Regions from separate parts of the Homo sapiens genome. Here region 2 is linked to region 1. The links come from fine-mapping of genetic effects on gene expression. A gene starts in region 1. The other region holds a variant in brackets. All regions are shown on one strand. Distances are between the middles of the regions.

The links. PIP is the estimated chance that this variant, and not a neighbour inherited with it, causes the effect. A credible set is the group of variants that fine-mapping cannot tell apart.
Region 2: its variant is the best candidate, but not a certain one, in a credible set for the expression of XPA in tibial artery (GTEx, PIP 0.71).

What each region holds. Positions count from the first base shown.
Region 1 is chr9:97,694,737-97,700,116 of GRCh38, forward strand. It overlaps XPA (XPA, DNA damage recognition and repair factor), which reads right to left and starts at 2,604. Exons shown (of 6, transcript NM_000380.4): 1 at 2,385-2,604. The coding sequence starts at 2,556. PTCSC2 (papillary thyroid carcinoma susceptibility candidate 2) reads right to left here. Exons shown (of 11, transcript NR_147055.1): 11 at 4,889-5,335. It also overlaps the pseudogene KRT18P13. RefSeq lists enhancers at 1,996-2,055, 2,066-2,115 and a silencer at 2,666-2,765.
Region 2 is chr9:97,618,876-97,624,255 of GRCh38, forward strand. All of the region lies in intron 3 of TSTD2 (thiosulfate sulfurtransferase like domain containing 2), which reads right to left. Among named protein-coding and RNA genes, the nearest start is that of TSTD2, 12 kb to the right of the region's middle. The variant T/C (reference allele first, on the strand shown) is at 2,969.

The DNA of each region.
Region 1 (5,380 bases):
GCAATTCCATCTCCAGGCATATACACAAGAGAAGTGAGTGTGTATGTCCACTAAAATACATAAAAAAGAATGTGTACAGAGGTTTCATTCGTAACAGCCCCAAAGTGGAAACAACCCAAATAGCCACCAAAAGGAAAATGGAAAAAATTGTGGCATAATACAAAAGAATCTATACAACATCTAAATGCACAAACTACCAATGCACGCAACAAAATGTGTGAATCTCTCAGATACTATGTTGCGCAAAAAAAGCCAGATACTGTATGACTCAATGTACATGAAGTTTGGAAATAGGTAATACCAATCAAATGGTCAGAAGAGTATTACTTCTGAGAGTAGAGAGTGGACACCGACTAGGAAGGCGCAATAGGAAAACTTCTAAGGTTCCGGAAGTGTACATGTCTTGATCACGATGGTGTTTACACAAGCATTCACATAGGTAAAATTCAGATGAGTACATTTTACAGTATGTTACACCTCCATTTATTAAGACAGATTAATATGTTTTATTCTGCTACAGTCACTCCCCTTCTCTGGCCTCAATTTCTCCCTCTATTAAATGAAAGGATTAGATTATAAACTTGTTTCCACTGTTAACAGCAATTCTCACACTATAATGCCTGTTCATCTCTCTGTATCCCTTCATTAGACTGAGTGCCTTTACTTGTATACTTCTGACAAATAGTAAACATTCCATGAGTACCAACTGGATGGATAGAAATGAATGAACCTACCAGAATATGTAATATAAATAGCAAAGTAAATGAATGGAATGACAGTAAACACAATGAGAATTAAGAAGAGGGAAAGCTGGAGTAGTCGAGCCCATGACTTGAGCAGGATCCTAAACAATGCTAACTCATGCCCAAAACAAAGTCCGATTTCTCTCTGCTGCTATGCCTTGCTGTTTCCCCAGGACCTTAGCACCACTCTTCGTATTCTAAGCAAGTTTTTTCAGTCTTTCATGGCATATGTCATGGCACACAGAGAAAAAGAAAATTGTATAGTACCATGAAATAAAAGTGTCACAAAGATAAAAATCTCAGCACTTACCTAACTCTTGAAACATGGTGGGTTGTACACAATGCTACAATACAGTTCAGTTCTTGGGGAACTGCCTAAGAAATCTTAAAGAATGTTCATTCTACCTTGCTTTCCATGATCAAAAGTTTAATTTAATGTCAGTTTTTGCTATTTTGCACCTTCCGTTCCACAGCCATGTCGTAGACCTGGAAACCTTTATGGAATCATGACTATGAATTAATCAGTGCAAATGAACTTTCTGTCTGACTCTAGCGTGCCTCAAGTTTAGAAAGGAATAAAAGGTAACCACTATAAAGTAGAAAGGATGAGACCAGTACCATCAAAAGTAGCTGGAATTTGCAGTTTCGGTGTTAGTATGAACATCAAGACATGCTGCCAGCCTCAGACTCTTCTCACTCTCACTACATCTGGCTGATAAAAAAGAGTAATACAGCTCTAAACTGTGCTCGACAAAGGGCAGTATAGAGCTTTAGGAACACATGTACTTCATGTTATAGAGGCAGCCCTGAAGAACTGCCTGTCAACCAAACTATATTTTAAGTATCCTGTTAAAGATTATTAGTTGACCCCAGTGGCAAATTCTATAAGAGAATAATCTGCAATGAGAGATCAGTCCTTAATTTACTTCAATCAATAAACACGTTTTGAGCAACTAGTTTTTGCCAAGAAATCGCAGAGGTCACATGTCCAAGAAATAGACTCATGGAATCTATGGATTAGAATCTTAAAGGTTTACTATCCAGTCCCTTCTTCTGATTGCTGAGTAGGAGATTCTGATTGCTGAATCTCCTCTCCTCCACATAAGTAAGCGTTCTTCCAGTTCCTATTTGAGCGCTTCTAGTAACGGGAAGCTCATGAGAAGCAATCCATTGCACTTTTGGCAACTCTAATTGTTGAAAGCTCTCCCTAACAAACACCAAGATCTGCCTCTTCCATCAACTAGTTCTAGGTATAGAGGCCAGAATCAAGAACTAGTCTAACTCCTCTTTCCGGGACAGCTGAGGCCCTGACACCTGGCAGTGGCTGACACCTCCCGGCCGGGGCGGCTGCATCCCTAAACGAAAAATCGAAGCTGCCAGCAGCCGAGGTGCAGCGAAGAAGGCCCGGGGCTGGGGGTCAGGAGGCCCGCGTGCGACAGAGGAACGCTCTGTGGTCGTGGACAGGACGCTTTGACAAGGCGGCTGGCTGGGCGGATTCCCTCTCCGACTCGGGGAGAATCTGCACACATACGCCAGCGGAGTTGACGCGACCCCCGGGCCCCGGGACTCGGCTTGCACGAGCCAGTCTGGGGACCGGGGAGGCGGGGAGAGGGAAGGGGAAAGCGCGGACGCGGCCCAAACCTCCAGTAGCCGCAGCCGCCGTCGCCGAGTAGGGCCGGGCAGCCAGCCGGGCCTGGCGCAGCATCAGTGCCCGCTGCCGCTTCCGCTCGATACTCGCCCGCACCGAGGCAGGCAGCTCCGCGGGTTGCTCTAAAGCCGCCGCCTCCGGCAAAGCCCCGTCGGCCGCCGCCATCTCTGGCCCACTCCGAGGACCTAGCTCCCAGCTCCACGCACGCGCACTGCACGCCGAGGCGAGCCAGCCGCCCTGCACCGCCTCTGCGCTCCCCGCACCCAGCGGCCTTTCTGAGTGAGAGCGCCTGCGCAGTTAAGGGGCTCGGGGTGGCCTGCCCGGGCGCTGGGCGGAGTCTGGGTATGCGCGGACACGGAGTACCCGCCTAACTACCTGCTCTCTTGTCATCCGGGAGAAGGGTCCGTGCTGAGATCATATCTCACGACCTGGTCACCTTTAAAATAGGTCTCGCTTGGTGATTCAGAGTATAGGCTTTGGAGTCAGGCCTGGGTTAAGTCTGAGCTCTTGACAGTTAAAGTCTGTGTGACCTTGGGCAAGTTATTTAACCAGAGTTCAGTTTCTTCAGTGGTAAAATGAGGATAATTATGGAACCATTTACCGAGTCTTTGGGAGGATTAGATTGCCAGGACAATAACCTGGCACGTAGAAGACCTCAAAAAATGGTAACAGTGAGTAGTAGTAGTGCCAGTCATAGAGCCCAACAGATGATAGTCCTGATTTTATGTTGGATACACGGCCTAGAGACACAGCCTTAGATTTAAAATGAGAAGACCTGGGTTGAAACTCCCAGTTAACTTGCTGTGTGACCTCAGGCAAATGCAGGACTTGCTCCAAGGCTGATATGCATAAGGTTGGCTATCTTTCCCATGGAATATTCCTTCAGTGAGGATGAGCTACTGCCAGGTAGACAGTGGGTTTGGATCTGGGCCAAATATCCTGACTTCCCAAAAGTGTGGCTAGTGTAACAAAAGAAACATAGCAGGCTTTCCCAAAAATGTATGCTTTCCCTTTGTTACAAATAATGCTTAATTGAAACCAGAAAACATTAACTTCTAATTACTACATGTACCATTTAGGACTGGCTTTTAGAAAGACAACCTCACACACTGATGTTTCCCACTAATGTTCAATGGTTAACCTTTCAGAAACACAATTCAGTGTTCTAATTTATCGGTCATATATACATAAAGCTGCAAAACCTCGTATAAAGCAGTTACCTGCTGAAATCTTAGGTTGAATTGGAGATAGAATCTCAAGCCATCCCCATCTCCCTTCCCCTCAGATCCTTCTTTCTCCCTACCCATCAATCTTGCCCAGGTGAAACTATTTCAAATTCCATAACATCAAAAGCACAAGCAACAAAAGAAAAAAAGCTGGACTTCATTAAAATTAAAAACTAGGCTGGGCACAGTGGTTCACACCTGTAATCTCAACAGTTTGGGAGGCCAAGGCAGGAGGATGACTTGAGGTCATGAGTTCAAGACAAGCTGAGGCAACACAGTGAGACCCTGTCACTATTAAAAAATAATAATAATTGGCAAGGTGCAGTGGCTCATGTCTGTAATCCCAGCCCTTTGGGAGGCCAACACAGGAGGATTGCTTGAGACCAGGAGTTCAAGACCAACCTGGGCAATGTAACAAGAACCCATCTCAGGAGGTCAAGGCTGCAGTGAGCTGTGATGGCACCACTACACTCCAGCCTGGGCAACACAATAACATCTTGTCTCAAAAAAAAATTAAAGTCGTCGGCAAAGCCTGAGTCCTGTCCTCTCACTCTCCTCCCTGGACAGCATAAGCTTCACCACTCGCTCCACCTTCTCCACCAACTACCGGTCCCTGGGTTCTGTCCAGGCACCCAGCTACGGTGTCCGGCTGGTCAGCAGCATAGCCAGCGTCTGTACAGGCACGGGGGCTCTGGTTCCCGGATCTCCATGTCCCGCTCCACCAGCTACCTGAGCAGCATGGGTTCCGGGGGCCTGGCCGCGGGGATGGCCAGGGGTCTGGCAGGAATGAGAGGCATCCAGAACAAGAAGGAGACCGTGCAAAACCTGAACAACTGCCTGGCCTCCTACCTGGACAGAATGAGGAGCCTGGAGGCCAAGAACTGGAAGCTGGAGAGTAAAATCCAGGAGCACCTGTAGAAGAAGGGACCCCAGGTCAGAGATGAGCCATTACTTCAAGACCATTGAGGGCCTGAGGACTCAGATCTTCACAAATACTGTGGACAATGCCTGCATTGTTCTGCAGATTGACAATGCTGGTCTTGCTGCTGATGACTTTAGAGTCAAGTATGAGACAGAGCTGGCCATGCGCCAGTCTGTGGAGAGCCACATCCATGGGCTCCGGAGGTCACTGATGACACCAGTGTCACTCGGCTGCAGCTGGAGACAGAGATCGAAGCTCTCAAGGAGGAGCTGCTCTTCATGAAGAAGAACCACGAAGAGGAAGTAAAAGTGTTGTACCCGAGCGAGTTAAAAAAACGCCACACTTTGAGATGAATTAAGAGTCCTTTATTAGCCGGCGACCGAGAGACGGCTAACGCTCAAAATTCTCTCGGCCCCGAGGAAGGGGCTTGATTAACTTTTATACCTTGGTTTAGAAAGGGGGGGTCGTCTAGTTAAAACAATTTTACAGAAGTTAAGTAGTCAAAAAGTTAAAAGGATAAATGGTTACAGGAAAGTAAACAGTTCCAGATGCAGGGGCTTTAAGACTATTACAAGGTTATAGATGCAGGGCTTTGGGCGTTATCAAACAGATGAATTCTTGGGGACTGTGGATATAGCTTGCCACAGTATCTTATCAGTTAATTGCATTCTTGGATGTGCTGGGAGTCAGCTTGCACAAGTTAAGTCCTTGAGGAAGGGGCTGCCAGTGAAAGAGCCAAGATGGAGTTTGTCTGGTTCTCTTAGCTAAGGGAGAGTCTGTTCAGGTGGAAACAAGCCTAGGTGAAAAAGGAAAAATGAGGTTGGGCATTACAAAAGGCCTA
Region 2 (5,380 bases), 76 kb before region 1:
ATCCTATTTTCCTTTCTCTAAGCTCCTATAACAAGTTAGTCTCTGTAACATACAATTCAACTGATAATTATGTAACCCGTTATCATCTGCTAATTGCCTCATGTGTCTTTTTCGTTGTTTTTCTAACTAGTAAGTAAATTCCCTGAAGTGTGGGGCCATATGAAATGGAAGGGCCATATCTGTATAGCACAGTGTAGTTCACAACTGCTTATACTATCACCGTCCTATATAACTCATTCTGCAGTACTGGGAGGTAGGCAAGGCAGGCATTATTATTCCAATTTTAGAGGTGAGGAAATGAAGGTACAGAAAATTTTAGTGACTAGCTCAAGTGTGACTTCTACTTCAACTTGCTTTCTTGCTCCTTTCCAATAAGTAAAAGGGAATGTGGCACTGAGTAGTAATGACAAAAATTGATCAAATTTGGACTACAGTTGACCCGTGAGCAACGCGGGTTTGAACTGTGCAGGTCCACTTACTTGTAGATCTTTTTGTGCCTCTAGCACTCATGCAGCAACAAGACCAATCCCTCTTTCTCCTCAGCCTACTCAATGTGAAGGTGACAAAGATGAAGACCTTTATGACGAACCATTTAACATAAAGAATAGTAAATATGTATTACGATTTTCTTTTTTTCTTTTTTTTTTGTAGGGCAGGGTCTTACTATGTTGCCCAGACTGGTCTTGAACTCCTGGCCTAATGTGATCTTCCTGCCTTGGCCCTCCACAATGCTGGGATTATAGGAATAAGTCACTGCACCTGGCCTCTTATGATTTTCTTAATAACATTTTCTCTAGCTTACTTTAATACAGTATACAATATATAATATACATAACATAGAAAGATGTGTTCATTGACTGTTTACATTATTGATAAGGCTTCAGTCAACAGGAGGCTATTAGTATAGTTTTGGGGGAGTTAAAAGTTATACGCAAATTTTCAACTGCCCCTAATCCTTGGATTCCTGACCCCGTGTTTTTCAAGGATCAACTGTATTTCTATTTACCAAATAGTTCAATAATTGCTTAAAGTCAGAAATTTGTCCTCTGGAATTCTGTAATATGACTTGGTGAGTTTTTCAAGGCCAGGATCTAAACATCTAATCCTATGATTCAGTTTTAAAAGTTAATACACTTCCTAAAACATATTCAGCTCAGAAAACTGTATCTGGCAATAAAAACCTGATATTGCTTGGCTGTGTCCCCACCCAAATCTCATCTTGAATTGTAATTCTCACAATTCCCACGTGTCATTGGAGGAACGCAGTGGGAGCTAATTGAATCATGGGGGTAGGTCTTTCCCATGCTGTTCTCATGAGACTGAATAAATCTCATGAGAGTTGATGGTTTTAAAACTGGGAGTTTTCCTGTACAAGCTTTCTCTCTTTGCCTGCTGCCATCCATGTAAGATGTGACTTGCTCCTCCTTGCCTTCCAACCATGATTGTGTGGCCTCCCCTGCCATGTGGAACTGTAAGTCCATTAAACCTCTTTCTTTTGTAAATTGCCCAGTCTTGGGTATGTCTTTATCAGCAGCATGAAAATGAACTAATACAATAAATTGGTACTAGTAGAGTGGGGTGCTGCTGAAAAGACACCCAAAAAGGTGGAAGTGATTTTGGAACTAGGTAACAGGCAGAGGCTGGAACAGTTTGGAGGGCTGAGAAGACGACAAGAAGATGTGGGAAAGTTTGGAACTCCCTAGAGACTTGTTGAATGGCTTTGACCAAAATGCTGATAATGATATGGACAATGAACTTCAGGCTGAGGTGGTCTCAGATGGAGATGAGGAACTTCTTGGGAACTGGAGCAAAGGTGACTCTTGTTATGTTTTAGCAAAGAGACTGGTGTGGCATTTTGCCCCTGCCCTAAAGATTTGGGGAACTTTGAACTTGAGAGAGACGATTTAGGGTATCAGCAAAGCATTCAAGAGGTGATTTGGGTGCTGTTAAAGGCATTCAGTTTTATAAGGGAAGCAAAACATAAAAGTTCAAAAAATTTGCAGTCTGACAATGCAATAGAAAAGGAAATCCCATTTTCTGAGGAGAAATTCAAACTGGCTACAGAAATTTGCATGAGTAATGTGGAGCCAAATGTTAATCCCAAAGACAAAGGGGAAAATGTCTCCAGGGCATGTCAGAGGTCCTCATGACAGCCCCTCCTATCACATGCCTTGTTGTGGGAAGTCAGGGACCCTGAACGGAGGGACTGGCTGAAGCTGTGGCAGAAGAACATAAGTTGTGAAGATTTCATGGACATTTATTAGTTCCCCAAATTAATACTTTTATAATTTATGCCTGTCTTTACTGCAATCTCTAAACATAAATTGTGAAGATTTCATGGACATTTATCACTTCCCCAATCAATACTCTCATAATTTCCTATGCCTGTCTTTAATCTCTTAATCCCGTCATCTTCATAAGCTGAGGATGTATGTCGCCTCAAGACCCTGTGATGATTGTGTTAATTGCACAAACTGTTTGTAAAACATGTGTGTTTGAACAATATGAAATCTGGGCACCCTGAAAAAGAACATGGTAACAGCCATGTTCAGGGCACAAGGGAGGTAACTATAAGGTCTGACTGCCTGCGGGGCCGGGCAGAACAGAGTCATATTTTTCTTATTGAAGAAAATGAGTAGAAGAAATATCGCTGAATTCTTTTCCCAGTAAGGAATAACCCTGGGAAGGGAATGCATTCCCGGGTGGTCCTATGGACGGACACTCTGGGGGTGTCTGCCTTATGCGGTTGAAGATGAGGGATGAAATACGCTCTGGTCTCCTGCAGTGCCCCCAGGCTTGCTAGGATTAGGAAATTCCAGCCTGGCGAATTCTAGTCAGACTGGTTCTGTGCTCTTGAACCCTGTTTCCTGTTAAGATGTTTATTAAAGACAATGCGTGCACAGTGGGACATGAAACCTCATCAGTAATTCTAATTTAGCCCTGGCCTTGTGACCTTGCTCTGCCCTTC[T/C]GCCCTTGTTATCTTTTTTATTGCCATTTGAAGCATGTGATCTCTGTGATCCACTCCCTATTCGTACACCCTTCCCTTTTTGAAATCCCTAATAAAAACATGCTGGTTTTGTGGCTCAGGTGGGCATCACAGAACTTACCAACATGTGAAGCGACCCCCGGACACCTAGCTGTAAAATTTCTCTGTTTTGTACTCTTTCTCTTTATTTCTCAGGCCGGCCAACACTTAGAGAAAATAGAAAAGAACCTACGTTGACATATTGGGGGCTGGTTCCCCCGATAATGCCTGAGGGTCTAGGAGGAAAAAATGGTTTCATGGGCCAAACCCAGGGTCCCCCTGCTGTGGGCAGTCTAGGGACTTGGTGCCCTGCATCCCAGCCACTCTAGCTGTGACCGAAAGGGGCCAATGTAGAATTCAGGCCATGGTTCCAGAGGGTGCAAGCCTCAAGCCTTGGCAGCTTCCAGGTGGTGTTGAGCCTGTGAGTGCATAGAAGTCAAGAATCAGGGTTTGGGAACCTCTGCCTAGATTTCAGAGGATGTATGGAAACACCTGGATGCCCAGGCAGAAGTTTGCTGCAGGGGCAGGGCCTTCATGGAGAACCTCTGCTAGGGCAGTGCAGAAGGGAAATGTGGGGTCAGAGCCCCAACACAGAGTTCCCACTGAGGCACTGCCTAGTGGAGCTATGAGAAAAGGGCCATGGTCCTCCAGACCCCAGAATGGTAGATCCACTGAGAGCTTGCACCGTGTGCCGAAAAGATGCAGACACTCAACCCCAGCCTGTGAAAGCAGTCAGGAGGGAGGCTATACCCGCAAAGCCACAAAGGCGGAGTTGCCCAGTATCATGGGAACCAATCTCTTGCATCAGCATGACCTGGATGTGAGACACGGAGTCAAAGGAGATCATTTTGGAGCTTTAAAATTTGACTGCCCTGCTGGATTTAGGACTTGCATGGGGCCTGTGGCCCCTTTGTTTTGGCCAATTTCTCCCATTTGGAATGGCTGTATTTACTCAATGCCTATGCCCCCATTGTATCTAGGAAGTAACTAACTTGCTTTTAACAGGCTCATAGGCAGAAGGGATTTGCTTTGTCTCAGATGACATTTCAGACTGTGGACTTTTGAGTTAATGCTGAAATAAGACTTTGGAGACTGTTGGGAAGACAGAATTGGTTTTTAAATGTAAGGACATGATATTTGGGAGGGGCCAGGGGCAGAATGATATGGTTTGATTGTGCCCCCACCCAAATCTCATCTTGAATTGTAATTCTCACAATTCCCACGTGTCATGGGAGGACCCCAGTGGGAGGTAATTGAATCACGGGGATGAGTCTTTCCCATGTTGTTCTTGTGATAGTAAGTCTCACAAGATCTGATGGTTTTAAAAACAGGAGTTTCCCTGCACAAGCTCTCTCTCTTTGCCTGCTGCCATCTACGTAAGATGTGACTTGCTCCTCCTTGCCTTCCACCATGATCATCAGGTCTCCCCTGCCATGCGGAACTGTTAAGTCCATTAAACCTCTTTCTTTTGTAAATTGCCCAGTCTTGGATATGTCTTTATCAGCATGAAAACAGACTAATACAAAACCCTTTTTTAAGCTCTGACATTACATAGGGTAGAGGAATCATTAATGTCTCTGTGTCTTCCCACTTGTTTTTGAAAATAATATAATTTTCTTTCTTTACCTCTCCTCCCTAAAGAATATGTAGAATGGTCTCCAAGAAACCTTGCAAACAGGCTGGATGCAGTGGCTCACACCTGTAATCCCAGCACTTGGGAGGCCAAGGTGAGCAGATCACCTGAGGTCAGGAGCTCAAGACTAGTCTGGCCAACATGGTGAAACCCTGTCTCTACTAAAAATACAAATTAGCTGGGTATGGTGGTGCATGCCTGTAATCCCAGCTACTCGGGAGGCTGAGGCAGGAGAATCACTTGAACCTGGGAAGCAGAGGTTGAAGTGAGCCAAGATCACACCACTGCACTCTAGCCTGGGTGACAGAGTGAGACTCTGTCTCAAAAAAAAAAAGAAAAAACCTCACAAACAATGTCAACTGACTGGGTATATGCTGCTGCACAGGCTATGGTCTTTGGCTATATATAGTATGCATGTTATTGGCCTAACTTAGGCCTCTAGAATTCTGTGCCTTAAGGATCTAGCTGTTGCAAGTAGTTAAGATCCTGAAAGAATAGGTAAAGTGCAGGCAGTGCTGCTAGGTAATACACACTAAAAAGTAACAACTCTGAGGTATGGTGCCCAGCCTCCAAGATGATCCCTGATGATCCTGCCTCCTGGTATTTAGACCCTTGCATAGTTCTCTCCTAGACTGTACTGAGGTTAGTCTACGTGACCAATAGCATCAATAAAAAGTGATGGTATGGCAATCTGAGATTAGGTCATAAAAGATTGTGGTTTC